Linked DNA regions of Homo sapiens: region 2 is linked to region 1. The links come from fine-mapping of genetic effects on gene expression. Tissue or cell type: whole blood. Region 1 holds a variant in brackets; the other region holds the start of a gene. Each region is shown on its reference strand, or each on the opposite one. Region 1 overlaps PRORP (protein only RNase P catalytic subunit). Region 2 holds the start of RELB (RELB proto-oncogene, NF-kB subunit).

The links. PIP is the estimated chance that this variant, and not a neighbour inherited with it, causes the effect. A credible set is the group of variants that fine-mapping cannot tell apart.
Region 2: it holds the start of RELB, and the variant in region 1 is the best candidate, but not a certain one, in a credible set for the expression of RELB in whole blood (TOPMed, PIP 0.69).

The regions. Positions count from the first base shown.
Region 1 is chr14:35,128,525-35,136,848 of GRCh38, forward strand. All of the region lies in intron 4 of PRORP (protein only RNase P catalytic subunit), which reads left to right. The region is part of intron 4 of PRORP-PSMA6 (PRORP-PSMA6 readthrough); the gene reads left to right. Among named protein-coding and RNA genes, the nearest start is that of PRORP, 10 kb to the left of the region's middle. The variant T/G (reference allele first, on the strand shown) is at 4,357.
Region 2 is chr19:44,996,602-45,004,925 of GRCh38, forward strand. It overlaps RELB (RELB proto-oncogene, NF-kB subunit), which reads left to right and starts at 4,863. Exons shown (of 12, transcript NM_006509.4): 1 at 4,863-5,084; 2 at 6,348-6,395. The coding sequence starts at 4,979. RefSeq lists silencers at 4,687-5,096, 5,417-5,696.

The DNA of each region.
Region 1 (8,324 bases):
GTCTCTTCATGTTTTTTATTTCTTCATGGTTCAGTCTTAATATATTGAATCTGTCTAGGAATTTGGCCATTTCCTGTAGGTTTTCCAATTTATTGGCATATGGTTGCTCATAGTAGCCACTAATGATCCTTTGAATTTCTGCAGTATTTGTTGTAATGTCTTCTTTTTCATCTCTGATTTTATTTGGGTCTTCTCTCCTTTTTTCTTAGTCTGGCTAAAGGTTTATCAATTTTGTTTAACTTTTCAAAAAACCAACTTTTTGTTTCATGATCTTTTGTATGGTTTTCTTAATTCCAATTTCATTTATTTCTACTCTGATCTTTATTATTTAGTCTCTCCATTTTGGGTTTGGTTTACTCTTGCTTTTCTAGTTCTTTAAGACGCATATTTGGCCGGGCGCGATGGCTCATGCCTGTAATCCCAGCACTTTGGGAGACCAAGGCTGGTGGATCACCTGAGGTCAGGAGTTCGAGACCGGCCTGGCTAACATAGTGAAACCCCGTTTCTACTAAAAATACAAAAAAAAAAAAAAAATTAGCTGGGCATGGCGGCGCACGCTGGTAATCCCAGCTACTCGTGAGGTTGAGGCAGGAGAATCGCTTGAACCCAGGAGGCGGAGGTTGAAGTGAGCCGAGATCACGCCATTGCACTCCAGCTTGGGCAACAAGAGTGAAACTCCATCTCAAAAAAAAAAGATGCATATTTAGGTTGTTTATTTTAAGTTTTTCTTCTGTTTTGATATAGGCACTTATAGCTGCTTTTGTTATATCCCACCGTGCCTAGATACATTTAATGTTATTATTGATAAGTAAGGACTTAGTCCTGCCATTTTGTTTTCTGGTTGTTTTGTGGTCTTATTTTTTCCTTCCTTTCTTCCCTTTAGTGAAGATGATTTTCTCTGGTGATATAATTTAGTTTCTTGCTTTTTATTTTTTGTGTATCTGTTGTATTTTTCTTTTTTTTTTTTTGAGATGGAGTATTGCTCTGTCGCCCAGGCTAGAGTGCCGTGGTGCGATCTTGGCTCGCTGCATCCTCCACCTCCTGGGTTCAGGAGATTCTCCTGCCTCAGCCTCTTGAGTAACTGGAATTACAGGCGCACACCACCATGCCCAGCAAATTTTTTTTTTTGTATTTTTAGTACAGACAGGGTTTCACCATGTTGGTCAGGCTGGCCTCGAACTCCTGACCTCATGATCTGCCTTCCTCAGCCTCCCAAAGTGCTGGGATTATAGGCGTAAGCCACCGTGCCCAGCCTTGTATGTTTTTTGATTGGAGGTTACCATGAGGCTCACTAATACTTAACTATAGCCTATTATTTTAAGCTGATAATAATTTAACACTGTATAAACAAACAAGCAAAAAGAAAACTAATAAAAACTCTACACCTTTACTTTGTCTCCCTGCTTTTTAACTTTTTATTGTTTCTATTTATATCTTACTGTACTATCAATGTCTTGAAAAGTTATAGTCGTTATTATTTTTGATTGGTTCATTGTTTAGACTTTCTTTTTTTTTTTTTTTTTTGAGACGGAGTCTCGCTCTGTTGCCTAGGCTGGGGTGCAGTGGCACAATCTCAGCTCACTGCAGCCTCTGCCCCCCAGGTTCAAGTGATTCTTCTGCCTCAGCCTCCCGAGTAGCTGGGACTACAGGTGCCCGCCACCATGCCCGGCTAATTTTTTTGTATTTTTTAGTTGAGACGGGGCTTCACCATGTTAACCAGGATGGTCTTGATCTCCTGACCTCATGATTTGCCCGCCTCGGCCTCCCAAACTGCTGGGATTACAGGCGTAAGGCACTGCCTCACTAAACTCATTGTTTAGTCTTTCTAAAGATAAGAGTAGTTTTAGTTTACACACCATAGTTACAGTGTTATAATATACTATGTCTTTTTGTGTACTTATTATTAACAGTGAGTTATGTACCCTCAGATGATTTCTTATTGCTCATTAATGTCCTTTTCTTTTTTTTTTTCATTGAGATGGAGTCTCACTCTGTCGCCCAGGTTGGAATGGAGTGGCACGATCTCAGCTCACTCCAACCTCCGCCCCCACTGGGTTCAAGTGATTCTTGAGTCTTACCCTCCCAAGTAGCTAGGATTACAGGTACCCTCCACCAGACCCGGCTAATTTTTGTATTTTTAGTAGAGACAGGGTTTCACCATGTTGGCCAGGCTGGTTTCGAACTCCCAACCTTACTTTATCCAGCTGCGTCGGCCTCCCAAAATGCTGGGATTACAGGTGTGAGCTACTGCACCCGGCCTATGTCCTTTTCTTTCTGCCATTTTTTTTTTTTAAATATAGAGACAGGGTCTTACTATGCTGCCCAGGCTGGTCTCAAACTCTTGGGCTCAAGTGATCTTCCCACCTTGGCCTCCCAAAGTGCTGGAATTATAGGCGTGAGTCACCAGAGTAACGGTCCTTTTCTTCTTCTTCTTTTTTTTTGAGGCAGTCACTCTGTCGCCCAGGCTGGAGTGCAATGGCGCGATCTCAGCTTACTGCAACCTCCGCCTCCTGGGTTCAAGTGATTCTCCTGCCTCAGCCTCTGAATAGCTAGGATTATAGGCGTGCACCACCAGACCTGGCTAGTTTTTGTATTTTTAATAGAGACGGGGTTTCACCATGTTGACCAGGCTGGTCTTGAACTCCTGACCTCAGGTGATCCACCCACCTCGGCCTCCCAAAGTGCTGGAATTACAGGCATGAGCCACCACAGCTGGCCATCCTTTTCTTTCTGATTGAAGTACTCCTTAGCATTTATTGTAGGATAGGTCTGGTGTTGATGTAATCTCTCAGCTTTTGTTTGTCTGGGAAAGTCTTTATTTCTCCTTCATGTCTGAAGGATATTTTCACTGCATATACTATTCTGGGGTAAAAGTGTTTTTCCTTCAGCACTTTAAATATGTCATGCCATTCTTTCCTGGCCTGTAAGGTTTCCACTGAAAAGTCTGCTGCCAGATGTATTTTAGCTCCATTGTATGTTATTTGTTTTTTTCTCTAGTTGCTTTTTGGTTTTTTTTTTTTTTGAGACAGAGTCTTGCTCTGTCACCCAGGCTGGAGTGCAGTGGTGCTATTTCGGCTCACTGCAACCTCCACCTCCTGGGTTCAAGCGATTCTCCTTCTTCAGCCTTCCGAGTAGCTGGGATTACAGGCATCTGCCACCATACCCAGCTAATTTTTATATTTTTAGTAGAGACAGGGTTTCACTATGTTAGCCAGGCTGATCTCGAACTCCTGACCTCAGGTGATTCGCCTGCCTCAGCCTCCCAAAGTGCTGGGATTATAGATAGGTGTGAGCCACCACACCTAGCCAATCCTTTCTTTTTTTCTTTTTTTGAGAAGAAATCTCACTCTTGTCCCCTAGGCTGGAGTGCAGTGGTGCTATTTTGGCTCACTGCAACCTCCGCCTCCCAGGTTCAAGTGATTCTCCTGCCTCAGCCTCCCAAGTAGCTGGGATTACAGGCACCTGCCACCACGCCTGGCTAATTTTTGTATTTTTAGTAGCGACGGGTTTCACCATGTTGGCCAGGCTGGTCTCGAACTCCTGACCTGAGGTGATCCGTCCGCCTCGGCCTCCGAAAGTGCTGGAATTACAGGCATGAGCCACTGCGCCCAGCCCCAATCCTTTCTTTATCCGTTGAAGGTTGGATTATTCAACTGGGTGTGGTGGCTCACACTTGTAATCCCAGCACTTTGGGAGGCTGAGGTGGGTGGATCAGCTGGGGTCAGGAGTTCGAGACCAGCCTGGCCAACGTGGTGAAACCCCGTCTCTACAAAATATATAAAAATTAGCCAGGCGTGGTGGCGGGCCTCTGTAATTCCAGTTACGTAGGAGGCTGAGGCAGGAGAATCGTTTGAACCTGGGAGCCGGAGGTTGCGGTGAGCCAAGGTCACACTACTGCACTCCAGCCTGGGCAACAAGAGCAAATCTCCATCTCAAAAAAATAAAAAACAAGAAAAAAAAGAAAGTTGGATTATTCGTCCAGGCATTGTGGCTCACGCCTGTAATCCCAGCACTTTGGGAGGCCGAGGTGGGTGTGAATCACCTGAGTTTAGGAGTTTAAGACCAGCCTGGCCAACATGGTGAAACCCTGTCTCTACTAAAAATAAAAAAAAATTAGCTGGAAATGGTGGTGCGTGCCTGTAATCCTACCTACTCGGGAGGCTGAAGCAGGGGAATCATTTGAACCCGTGAAGCGGAGGTTGTAGTGAGCCAAGATTGCGCCACAGTACTCCAGCCTGGGCGACAGAGTGAGACTCCATCAAAAAAAAAAAAAAAAGGGAAGAAGGAAAGGAAAGGAAAGCAAAGCAAAGGAAAGGGAAGGAAGAAGGAAGAAGGAAGGAAAGTAAGTTTGATCAT[T/G]CAATGCTTTGAGTTAGTGTTTTTTTGTTTTGTTTTGTTTTGTTTTGTTTTGTTTTTTTGAGACGGAGTGTTGTTCTGTTGCCCAGGCTGGAGTGCAATGGCATGATCTTGGCTCACTGCAACCTCTGCCTCCCAGGTTCAAGCGATTATCCTGCCTCAGCCTCTTGAGTAGCTGGGATTACAGGTTCACGTCACCACGCCCAGCTAATTTTTGTATTTTTAGTAGAGATGGGGTTTCACCATGTTGGCCAGGCTGGTCTCGAACTCCTGACCTCATGATCTGCCCACTTGGCCTCCCAAAGTGATGGGATTACGGGCGTGAGCTACCATGCCCAGCCCTAACTGTGTATTTTCAAATAGCCTGTCTTCAATCTCACTAATTCTTCTGTGTGATCCCTTCTGCTGTTAAAGGACTCTGATGCATTCTTCAGCATGCCAGTTACATTTTTCAGCTTCAGAATTTCTGCTTGATTCTTTTTAATTTTTTTTCAATCTCTTTGTTAAATTTATCTGGTAGAATTCTGAATTCCTTCTTGGGTTATCTTGAATTTCTTTGAGTTTACTCAGTAGAGCTATTTTGAATTCTCTGTCTGAAAGGTCACACATCTGTTTCTCCAGTATTGTTCCCTGCTGCCTTATTTAGTTCATTTTGTGATGTCCTGTTTTCCTGGATGGTCTTGATACCATGTCTGGGCATTGAAGAGTTAGGTATTTATTGTAGTCTTTGCAGTCTGGGCTTGTTTGTACCTTTCCTTCCTGAGAAGGCTTTCCAGATACTTAAAAGGACTTGGGTGTTGTGATCTAAGTTGTATGTGCTTTAGGGGGCAGCCAAAGCCCAGTAATGCTGTGGTAAGAGGTACTGCCTTCATGGCCTTGAACAAGATCAGGGAGAATTCTCTGGATTACTAGGCAGAAGCTCTTGTTCTCTTCCCTTACTTTTTCCTAAACAAACAGTCTCTCCCTCTCATTCTGAGCCACCTGGAGCTGAGGACGTAGTCACACAAATACCCTTGTGGCCACCACCACTAGAACTGTGCTGGGCCAGACCTGAAGCCAGCAGAGCACTGGATCTTGCCCAAAGCCTGCTTAACTACTCCCTGGCTACTGTCTGTGTTCACTCAAGGCCCTGGGGCACTACAATCAGCAGTTGGTAAAGCCAGCCAGGCCTGTGTTCTTCCCTTCAGGGCGACAAGTTCCCCCAGGCCTCAGCAGGTCCAGAAGTGCCATTTGGGAGCCAGGGAGTAGAGTCAAAAATCTTAGAAGTCTACCTGGTGTTCTGTTGTATTGTGGCTGAGCTGGCATTCAAATGATAAGACACAGTTCTTCCCACTCTTCCCTCCCGTTTCCAAAAGCAGAGGAGCCCCACCGTGTGGCCACCGCCACCACCAGCCCACAGGGAGTTCTGCCAGGCTCCCACTGATGTTCTCATAAGGCCGAAAGGCTCTTCAGTCAGCTTGTGGTGCATGCTGCCTGGCCTGGGACTCACCCTTAGTGCTCTACCCACCTCTGGCTGAGGTGGTACCTGAAGCTAGCAATATCAGAGTCTCACTCAAGGCCCATGATGTACTACCTGGATATTGCTGCTGCTTATTCAGGGCCCAAGGGCTCTTCAGTTAGCAGGTGATGAATCCTTCCATGATTGGGTTCTTCCCTTCAAGGCAGTGAGTTCCCTTCTGGCTCAGAGTGTGTCTAGAAATGTCCAGGAGCTAGGGCCTAGAAAAGGGGGTGTCTCATGACTCTGACCGGTACCCCATCCTGCTGTAGCTGAGCTGGTGTCCAAGATGCAAGACAAAGTCCTCCCCACTCTTCCATCTCTTCTCAAGTAGAAGGAGTGGGTCTGTTTAGGAGACTGTGAGATGTGCGGCCTGGGCTTAGGGGAGGTATGGCACCAGTACTCCCCTAGCTATCGTCTCAGTAGGTCACATGCCCCTACCAGTCCACTGGCTCTGAGCCCAGTTCACCACTAGGACTCACCTAAGAGTTGCAATCCTTGTGGCTTAGACTGCCTTTCAAATTTATTTACGGGCCTGGAGCACTTTGGCCCATGGTGGTGAGGCTTGTGGGAACTCCAGTTTCAACCACTGGGATGGGCAATTTCCCTCTGGCTAGAGCTAGTTTAAATGCCCCTTCTGTGGGTGGGTATCAGCTGAGTTTGTTCTATTTTTGCTTTCTGCTATAACAGGGCAGCACTGAGTTCAATGCAGTGTCTCACAATTGCTGCACTCTCCCTCTCCCAAACACTCAGAGTCTTTCTCTGCACCACATTGCTGCTGCAGGGGGATGGGAGAGGAATGGCAGTGGTGATTCAAGACTGTTTTTCCTACCTCTTCAGTGCCTCTTTCAGTGATACAAAGTTAAAACCAGGTACTGTGAGTCCTCACCTGATTTTTGGTTCTTTTGAAGGTGCTTTTTTTACATGTGTAGATAGTTGTTAAATTGGTGTCCTTGCAAGTGGACGATCAGTGGAGCCTTTTATTCTGCCTTCTTGCTCCACCCCTTCTCCTCTGTCTATGGTACTTTTGTCCTGCAGAGTTGAGTAGATATAAAGGAGAACATGTGGCCTACAGAGCCTGAAATATTTACCATTTGGCCCTTAACAGAAAAAAATTGCTGATCCCTGGTATCAATGAATATCATAAACCTCTGGAGAAGTAATGAGTGTGAAGGAGCAGTGGCATCCAGGAGAGGGCCTCTCCTTTCTCATTGGTTGGTCCTATAGCATACTATAGGATAATGAGCAGCTATTATTAAGAAACATTGTCATAGGTTCTGGGGAGCCATTAACGTGTTTTAAGCAGGCCGGGCATAGTGGCTTATGCCTGTAATCCCAGCACTTTGGGTGGCCGAGGCGGGCAGATCATGAAGTCAGGAGTTTGAGACCAGCCTGGGCAATATGGGAAAACCCCGTCTCTACTAAAAATACAAAAATTAGCTGGTCGTGGTGGCGTGCACCTGTAGTCCCAGCTACTAAGGAGGCTGAGGCAGAAGAATCGCTGGAACCTGGGAGGCGGAGGTTGCAGTGAGCTGAGATCATGCCACTGCACTCCAGCCTGGGCGTCAGAGCAAGACTCTGTCTCAAAAAAAAAAAAAAAAAGTGTTTTAAGCAAAAGTATGATATGTATATTTTAGAGAGACCTCTCTGGCAGCTGGTTGGAAAAAGGAGTTGAAAAGGATAAGATTGAGGCACTGGAGTTGAGTCAGACGGCTGCTGAGTGGTCCAGGTGTGGGATGATGAGGGAAATGAAAGCCAGAATAAGGGTAGAGAAGGACCAGCTCAGCTTTGAGAACATTTTAGGAGATAAAAATTTCACCATTTGGTTTGGCTGCAGTGATGGGAGAAGACAGGATGATGTTCAGGTTTTCGGCTTGGGTGATGGGGTGAACAAACTCTCACTCCCTAATTCCTTTTCTTTTGTCACCCTGGAAAGATGCCATCTACCAAGAACAGGTATGAGGAGAAGATAATTGAATATCCGACAACGGGTTTTTTTGTTTTTTTGGTTTTTTTTTTGAAACAGAGTTTCGCTGTTGTTGCCCAGGCTGGAGTGCAATGGCGCAATCTCTGCTTACCGCAACCTCCGCCTCTCGGGTTTAAGCAATTCTCCTGTCTCAGCCGCCTGAGTAGCTGGGATTACAGGCATGCACCACCACACCCGGCTAATTTTGTATTTTTAGTAGAGACGGGGGTTTCTCCATATTGGTGAGGCTGGTCTCGAACTCCCAGCCTCAGGTGATCCACCCACCTCGGCCTCCCAAAGTGCTGGGATTACAGGTGTGAGCCACCGCACCTGGCCCATATTGGGTTTTAATGTCAGCAGAAGATCCAGGACTTGGGTTCCAGCTTACAGGGGAGAGTTAATGCTGGAGGTTTGGGGACCATCACATAATAGTAATAGGTTAAATGCGAAGAGTGCCTGAGCTCATCCAGGAAAACAGTGAGAACAGTAGTGGGCTCAATTCACAACTTG
Region 2 (8,324 bases), not on the chromosome of region 1:
ACAGCCCAGCAGAAATCCTGAGCACTGAGGATATCTGACATGTCCTTTTTAATTTTTATTTTTATTTATTTACTTTTTTTTTTTTTTTTGAGATGGAGTCTCGCTCTGTTGCTCAGGCTGGAGTGCAGTGGCACGATCTCGGCTCACTGCAGCCTTCGCCTGTCGAGTTCAAGCAATTCTCCTGTCTCAGCCTCCTGAGTAGCTGGGACTACAGGCACCTGCTACCAAGCCCAGCTAACTTTTGTATTTTTAGTAGAGACAGAGTTTCACATTTCACCATATTGGTCAGGCTGGTCTCGAACTCCTGACCTCAAGTGATCTGCCTGCCTCGGCCTCCCACAGTGCTGAGATTACAGGCATGAGCCACGGCGCCTGGCTATCCTTTATTTATTTATTTATTTATTTATTGAGACAAAGTCTTGCTCTGTCGCCCAGGCTGGAGTGCAGTGGCGCGATCTCGGCTCACTGTAAGCTCTGCCTCCCAGGTTCAAGCAATTCTTCTACCTCAGCCTCCTGAATAGCTGGGATTACAGGAGTGCGCCACCACGTCCAGCTAATTTTTGTATTTTTAGTAGAGATGGTATTTTACCATGTTGATCAGGCTGGTCTCAAACTCCTGACCTCATGATCCACCCGCCTCAGCCTCACAAAGTGCTGGGATTACAGACGTGAGCCACTGTGCCTGGCCCCTTTTTATTTATTTGTGTTCTTTTTGAGATGGAGTCACTGTCACCCAGGCTGGAGTGAGTGCAGTGGCACGATCTCACTTCACTGCAACCTCCGCCTCCTGGGTTCAAGTGATTCTCCTGCCTCAGCCTCCTGAATAGCTGGGATTATAGGTGCCCGCCACCACACCAGCTAATTTTTGTATTTTTAGTAGACATGGGGTTTCACCATGTTGGCCAGGCTGGTCTTGAACTCCTGACCTCAGGTGATCTGCCTGCCTCAGCCTCCCAAAGTGTTGGGATTACAGGCATGAGCCACCGTGCCTGGCCCTGACATGTCCTTTTAGTCATTCAGCAAACTTTTTTTTTTTTTTTTTTTTTTTGAGACAGTCTCACTCTGTCACCTAGGCTGGAGTGCAGTGGCGTGATCTCAGCTCACTGCAGCCTCCACTTCCTGGGTTCAAGTGATCGTCCTGCCTCAGCCTCCCTAGTAGCTGGGACTACAGGCACATGCCACCACACCCAGTTAGTTTTGTATTTTTAGTAGAGACGGGGTTTCACCACGTTGGCCAGGCTGGTCTTGAACTCCTGACCTCAGGTGATCCGCCTGCCTTGGCCTCCCAAAGTGCTGGGATTACAGGCATGAGCCACTGCACCCAGCCTCAACAAACATTTTTGAGGCCTGGCATTGGCAAGAGGCAGAGAGGAATCAGGAGAGCTTCTGGTCCTATAACAATTGGAGCTGCTATTTGTCATCCTTATCATAAGCCAAGCACTAGTGTAAGTGCTGCATGTGGTTGGCTTCATCCATTACATTTAATATTATTCAGTGTCCTCGTCACCTTACTGGTCCATCACTCTGCCCTCATCTCTACCCCTTTCCTGTCAGTCACTCTGCACCAGCCTTCTTGCTATTCCTTAAGCATGCCATGCATGTTCCTACCACAGGGCCTTTGCACGTGCTAGCCCCTGTGCTTTGAACACTCTCCCCCAGATATCCACATGAATCCCTCACCTCCTTTGACTCCCTGTTCAAATGGCACCTCTCAGACCCTGATCTTCCTAACCCAAACTATCTTCCGAACTCCTTCTCGTTATCCTGCTCTATCCTGTAATACTGCCATCACCATCAGACATAATATTTGCTTATCTGTTTTCCATCTGTCTCCTCACTTGGATTTCCTTGATGGCAAGGGCTTTTTGTCTGCTGTGTGCCTTGCTATGTCCCTAGCTTTTAGAGCAGTGCCTGACACTGTTACGCTGTGTGTAATAACTGTAAATTGAAGAGCCAGGCACAGTGGCTCACGCCTGTAATCCCAGCGCTTTGGGAGGTTCGGGCAGAAGGATCACTTGAGGCTAGGAGGTCAAGATCAGCCTGGGCAACAGCAAAATCCCATGTCTTAAATAAAAGAAAGAAGACCGGGTGTGGTGGCTCACGCCTGTAATCCCAGCACTTTGGGAGGCCAAGGCAGGCGGATCACGAGGTCAGGAGATTGAGACCATCCTGGCTAACACGGTGAAACCCTGTCTCTACTAAAACTACAAAAAATTAGCCAGGCATGGTGGCGGGCGCCTGTAGTCCCAGCTACTCGGGAGGCTGAGGAGCAGAATGGCGTGAACCCGGGAGTAGGAGCTTGCAGTGAGCCGAGATCGCGCCACTGCACTCCAGCCTGGGTGGCAGAGGAAGACTCCATCTCAACAAAAAAAAAAAAAGAAAGAAATAGGGCTGGGCACAGTGGCTCACGACTGTAATCCCAGCACTTTGGGAGGCCAAGACAGGCGGATCACCTGAGGTCAGGAGTTCAAGACCAGCCTGGACAACATGGTGAAACCCCATCTCTACTAAAAAAAAAAAAAAAAAAAGAAAGAAAGAAATGTAGTCCCAGCACTTTGGGAGGCTGAGGTAGGCAGCTCGCTTGAATCCAGGAGTTTGAGACCAGCTTGGGCAACATGGTGAAACCTCATCTCTGCTAAAAACACAAAAATTAGGCCAGGCATGGTGGCGCACACCTGTGGTCCCAGCTCACCAGCTGTGTGGCCTCAGGCAACTGACTTCATCTCTCTGAGCTTCAGTTTCCCGTCTGTAAAGTGGGTCTAATAATAGGACGGTCATGAGTATTAAATAAAATGATGTTAATAGTTAGTTGCCCTTTGGCCAGGTGCACTGGCTCAGCCTAAGCAACAGATCCTCTCTCTACAAAAATAGAAAACAGGCTGGGCGCAGTGGCTCATGCCTGTAGTCCCAGCTACTTGGGAAGCTGAGGCAGGAGAATCGCTTGAACCCGGGAGGCAGAGATTGCAGTGAGCTGAGATCGCACCACTGCACTGCAGCCTGGGTGACAGAGCGAGACTCCATCTCTCAAAAAAAAAAAGAAAGAAAAGAAAAGAAAACATTAGCCGGATGCGGTGGTGTGTGCCTGTAGTCCCAGCTACTCTGGAGGCTGAGGTGAGAGGATCCCCTTAGTCCAGGAGGTTGAGGCTGTGGTGAACCATGTTCCTGCCACTGCACTCCAACCTCGGTGACAGAGTGACACCCTGCCTCAAAAAAAAAAAAAAAGTTCACATTTGTATATAGCACCCACATGTGCCAGGCCCTGTTCTAAGAATTTTGTGTTTTAAATATTTGTGTCTATTAATTTGTGTGACCTTGGAGAAATTAATTTTGCCGGGTTTCAGTTTTCTCATCTGCTATGTGGGGATCAATAACACCATATACTTCACACAATTGTTGTGAACATTCAACTTACAGAGTTATTTCTTTTTCTTTTTGAGACAAGGTCTCACTCTGTCACCCAGGCTGGAGTGCAATAGCGTCATCACAGCTCACTGCAGCCTCAACCTCCCAGGCTCAAGCAATCCTCCTGCCTCGGCCTCCCAAAGTATTGGGGTTACAGGTGTGAGCCACCGTGCCTAGCCAGAACACCCAAATTTTATACAAGCAAAGGAAAGACAACAAACCCTGCATCTGTGGTCTGAGAGCGCCTGGCATCCAACTTAGAACCTAATAGATCACCTAGTCGTTCTCAGGAATATGAGAGGCTTAGGAATGTGATCTAGCCAAATGGCTGCCCCTCTTTCAGCCTGAGTCCCTTCTGCAATAATCCTATCATATGCTTCTGGCGCTGGTGATAGGGATGAGCTCAGGGTTTAGGCACACAGCTCAGGATGTATACGGAGGCTACACTGCTGCCATTCGCAGACTGAATAACTGAGCTTTTGAGCTCAAAGTGGTCTGGGCTATTTATGGGTAACTTTCAGGGGCTGCAGGGAGGAACAAACCAATAAATAAAACATCCATGCATTCATCCAATAAACTTTTTTTTTTTTGAGATGGGAGTCTCGCTCTGTTGCCCAGGCTGGAGTGCAGTGGCACGATCTCAGCTCACTGCAACCTCCGCCTCCCAGGTTCAAGCTATTCTCCTGCCTCAGCCTCCGGAGTAGCTGGCATTACAGGCGCACACCAACACGCCCAGCTAATTTTTGTATTTTTAGTAGAGATGGGATTTCACCATGTCGGTCAGGCTGGTCTCGAAATCCTGACCTCGTGATGTGCCTGCCTCGGCCTCCCAAAGTGCTGAGATTACAGGCATGAACCACCGCGCCCGGCCTCCAATAAACATTTATTGGGCACCTACGGTGTTCCAGGCGCTGGTCTAGGCGTTGGGGTTACAACAACGCACAAAACATAAATTCTGAAGCTGACACGCTAGCTTTAAACGTTCCTTAAATATCTTCATCCTCAATTTACGGTTGAGGAAACTGAGGTGTAGCGAGACCTTGGAGGTTTCCGAAATATTATTATGGATGGCAGGTGTAGAGCCCTGCCAACCTCTCGATCCTGAAGCTCCCCTTCCAGCCTGAGAAACGGCAGGTTCAAGTCCCACTGGGAGACCAAAGCGGGGAGCGGCTCAGTTTGCCGGCTTGCTCAATGGGTAAGGCGTGATGGCTCTAAGCAGGCCTCAGTTGTCTCGTCCAGAGCAATGGGCAGCGACGCCTGCCCAACCCCTCCTGAGCGCCCAGCCTCCCTTTCCCGGCCGGCCCCGCCCCCGCGATCACGTGACGCGTGGGGGTTTTCCCGTTCCCCAGGCGTGACGTCACGGCGGGGTGCAGACCAATGGGCGCGCAGGCCGGCGGCGCCGGGGAATTCCGCCGCCCCGCCCCCGCCCGCCGCCCGCCCGGCCCGGCCCCGCGCCCCGCGCAGCCCCGGGCGCCGCGCGTCCTGCCCGGCCTGCGGCCCCAGCCCTTGCGCCGCTCGTCCGACCCGCGATCGTCCACCAGACCGTGCCTCCCGGCCGCCCGGCCGGCCCGCGTGCATGCTTCGGTCTGGGCCAGCCTCTGGGCCGTCCGTCCCCACTGGCCGGGCCATGCCGAGTCGCCGCGTCGCCAGACCGCCGGCTGCGCCGGAGCTGGGGGCCTTAGGTAAGCGGGGCTGGGGTTCAGGAGAGGGGTCTGGGGCGGGGCTGGAGATGCGGGGATTCTGGCGGTCCCGGAGTAGTCTGGGGGTTCCTATGGGAGTCTAAGGGTTTCGCGGGGGCAGAGTGAGGGTTCCTGAGACACTGTATTAGGGCGTAGGAAGAAGGCAGAGGGTGATGAGGGGGTACGGCCCGAGGTTCGAGCGAGGCGTCCCGCTGTAGAGTGAGAGGGGGCGGGGCCTGACCCTGAGGCAAAGAAGGGGGCGTGGCCTGACTCAGAGAAGGCGGAGCGAAAGCTGCTCTTGGGCGGTATCGGGGCGGGGCCGGGCCCAGAGAGGGAGAAGAGGGGCGGGATCCGACCCGGACTATGAGAAGAGGGCCGGGCCTGACTCAAAAAAGGAAGCAGGGCCCTACGCTGAGGGGTGAGGGGGCGGGGCCTGGCCGTGAGGGCAGGAAGGGGGCGGGGCCTGAGTTGGCCGAAAGAAGGGGAAGGGGCGGGGCCTGACTCTGGCCGAGTGGAGGGGAAGGGCCTGTTACCCAAAAAAGCAGGGCGGGGCCCGACACAGAGAATGAGGAGGGGGTGGGGCTTGCCTCCAGACGGAGAAGCGGAGCCTTGACATTGAAAAAATTAAAAGTGGTCTGACCCTGACAGGAGGATGTTTTTTTTTGTTTGTTTTTTGTTTTTTTCTTTTGAGATGGAGTCTCGCTCTGTCGCCCAGGCTGGAGTGCAGTGGCACGATCTAGGCTCACTGCAACCTCTGCCTCCCGGGCTCAAGCAGTTCTCCTGCCTCAGCCCCCCGAGTAGCTGGAATTACAGGTGCCCGCCACCACACCCGGCTAATTTTTGTAGTTTTACTAGAGACGGGGTTTCACCATGCTGGTCAGACTGGCCTCGAACTTCTGACCTCAGGTGATCCGCACGCCTCGGCCTCTCAAAGTGCTGGGATTACAGGTGTGAGCCCTTGTGCCCAGCGGGATGGGGACTTTTTAAACTGAGATTGAGATGGGGTCCCCTCCAGGCCCAACTTTAAGGGAGAAAAGGAGCGGGCCCTGAGTGTGATGAAGGGTGGGGCGAACCACAGAAACTAAAGGCCAGGACCTGTCCATGATTTAGCTGGTAAGCCTGGCCAGACGCAGGGGGGCAGTCAGGGCGAGGGGCCTGATCCAGAGGGGAAGGGCTAGAAGAGGAAGGGGTGGGGCTTCCTTGGGATATTCTCTGGTCCTCTGGCTGCCCCCCATCACCTCCTGAGACGTTTCTCCTTCTCTGCAGGGTCCCCCGACCTCTCCTCACTCTCGCTCGCCGTTTCCAGGAGCACAGGTGAGCAGCCCTCCACAGTTCCTGCCCACTCGCTCATGCAGGATGAGGTTGGGAGGACTCCACAGAGATGTCTCTGTTTGGGGGTTCACGAGGTCCACCTCAGCTTTCTCCTGACAGGGTGCATCCCTCCCTGCCAGTTGAGATGGGCCCCCTAGGTTTTCTTACCTCTTGGACTGTTAAGAGCGTGACAGGTGGCCGGGCGCGGTGGCTCACGCCTGTAGTCCCAGCACTTTGGGAGGCCGAGGCGGACGGATCACGAGGTCAGGAGATCGAGACCATCCTGGCTAACACGGTGAAACCCCGTCTCTACTGAAAATACAAAAACAAAATTAGCCGGGCGTGGTGGCGGGCTCCTGTAGTCCCAGCTACTCGGGAGGCTGAGGCAGGAGAATGGCGTGAACCTGGGAGGCGGAGCTTGCAGTGAGCCGAGATCGCACCACTGCACTCCAGCCTGGGAGACAGAGCGAGACTCCGACTCAAAAAAAAAAAAAAAAAAAAAAAAAGCGTGACAGGTAAATCTTACCACCTATCCATGCGCAAAGGCTTCTTTAGAGATTCACTGTGGCTTAGTAGAAGGTAATCACTGCCATCCTGGGCTTTGGAGCTGGGGTTTACATACTGCTGTCATCGCCCCTCCCTGTGTGAATGTCTGCAAGTCAGTTCCCCAGTTCAGGCCTCAGTTTTCCTCATCTGTAAGATGGACAGAATAACAGTGCCTCTCTTTCAGGGAAATTGAGAGTATTCAATGAATTGATACAGGTACACTTTCCAAGCAGTATCTGGCACACAGTAAGGGTTCAGTAAGTGTTAACTGTTAGTGGTATAATAATAATAACGATAATAATTATTATTACTAGACAGTCTATAACAGTGGTTCATTTTTGGTGTGTGTGTGGGTTTTTTTTGTCTGTTTTTTGTGTTTTTTTTTTTTTTTTTTTTTTTTTTGAGACAGAGTCTCGCTGTGTCACCCAGGCTGGAGTACATTGATGCGATTTTGACTCACTGCAATCTCCACCTCCCGGGTTCAGCAATTCTCCTGCCTCAGCCTCCTGAGTAGCTGGGATTACAGGCACCCGCCACCACAACCCACTTTGTGTCTTTAGTAGAGATGGGGTTTCACCATGTTGGCCAGGCTGGTCTTGAACTCCTGACCTCAGGTAATCCGCCCGCCTCAGCCTCCCAAAGTGCTGGGATTACAGGTGTGAGCCACCTCGCCTGGCCAGACAGTGGTTCTTTTTTTTTTGAGACGGAGTTTCATTCCTGTTGCCCAGGCTGGAGTACAATGGCGCGATCTCGGCTCACTGCAACCTCCACCTCTCAGGTTCGAGCAATTCTCCTGCCTCAGCCTCCCAAGTAGCTGGGATTACAGTCATGTGCCACCACGCTCAGCTAATTTTTTGTATTTTTAGTAGAGACAGGGTTTCTCCATGTTGGTCAGGCTGGTCTCGAACTCCTGACCTCAAAGGATCCGCCCTCCTCGGCCTCCCAAAGTGCTGGGATTACAGGCGCGAGCCACCGTGCCTGGCCAGACAGTGGTTCTTAAACCATGTGCATCAGAATCATCCATAGCGCTAGTTAAAACATAATGTCGCCTGATGTGGTGGCTCATGCCTGTAATCCCGGCACTTTGGGAGGCCGAGGTAGGCTCATCACCTGAGGTCGGGAGTTCTAGACCAGGCTGACCAACATGGAGAAACACCATCTCTACTAAAAATACAAAATTAGCTGGGCGTGGTGGCGCATGCCTGTAATCCCAAATATTCAGGAGGCTGAGGCAGGAGAATCACTTGAACCTGGGAGGTGGAGGTTGCCGTGAGCCGAGATCATGGCATTGCACTCCAGCCTGGGCAACAAGAGTGAAACTCCGTCTCAAACAAACAAACAAAAAAACAGCCGGCCGTGGTGGCTCACTCCTGTGATCCCAGCACT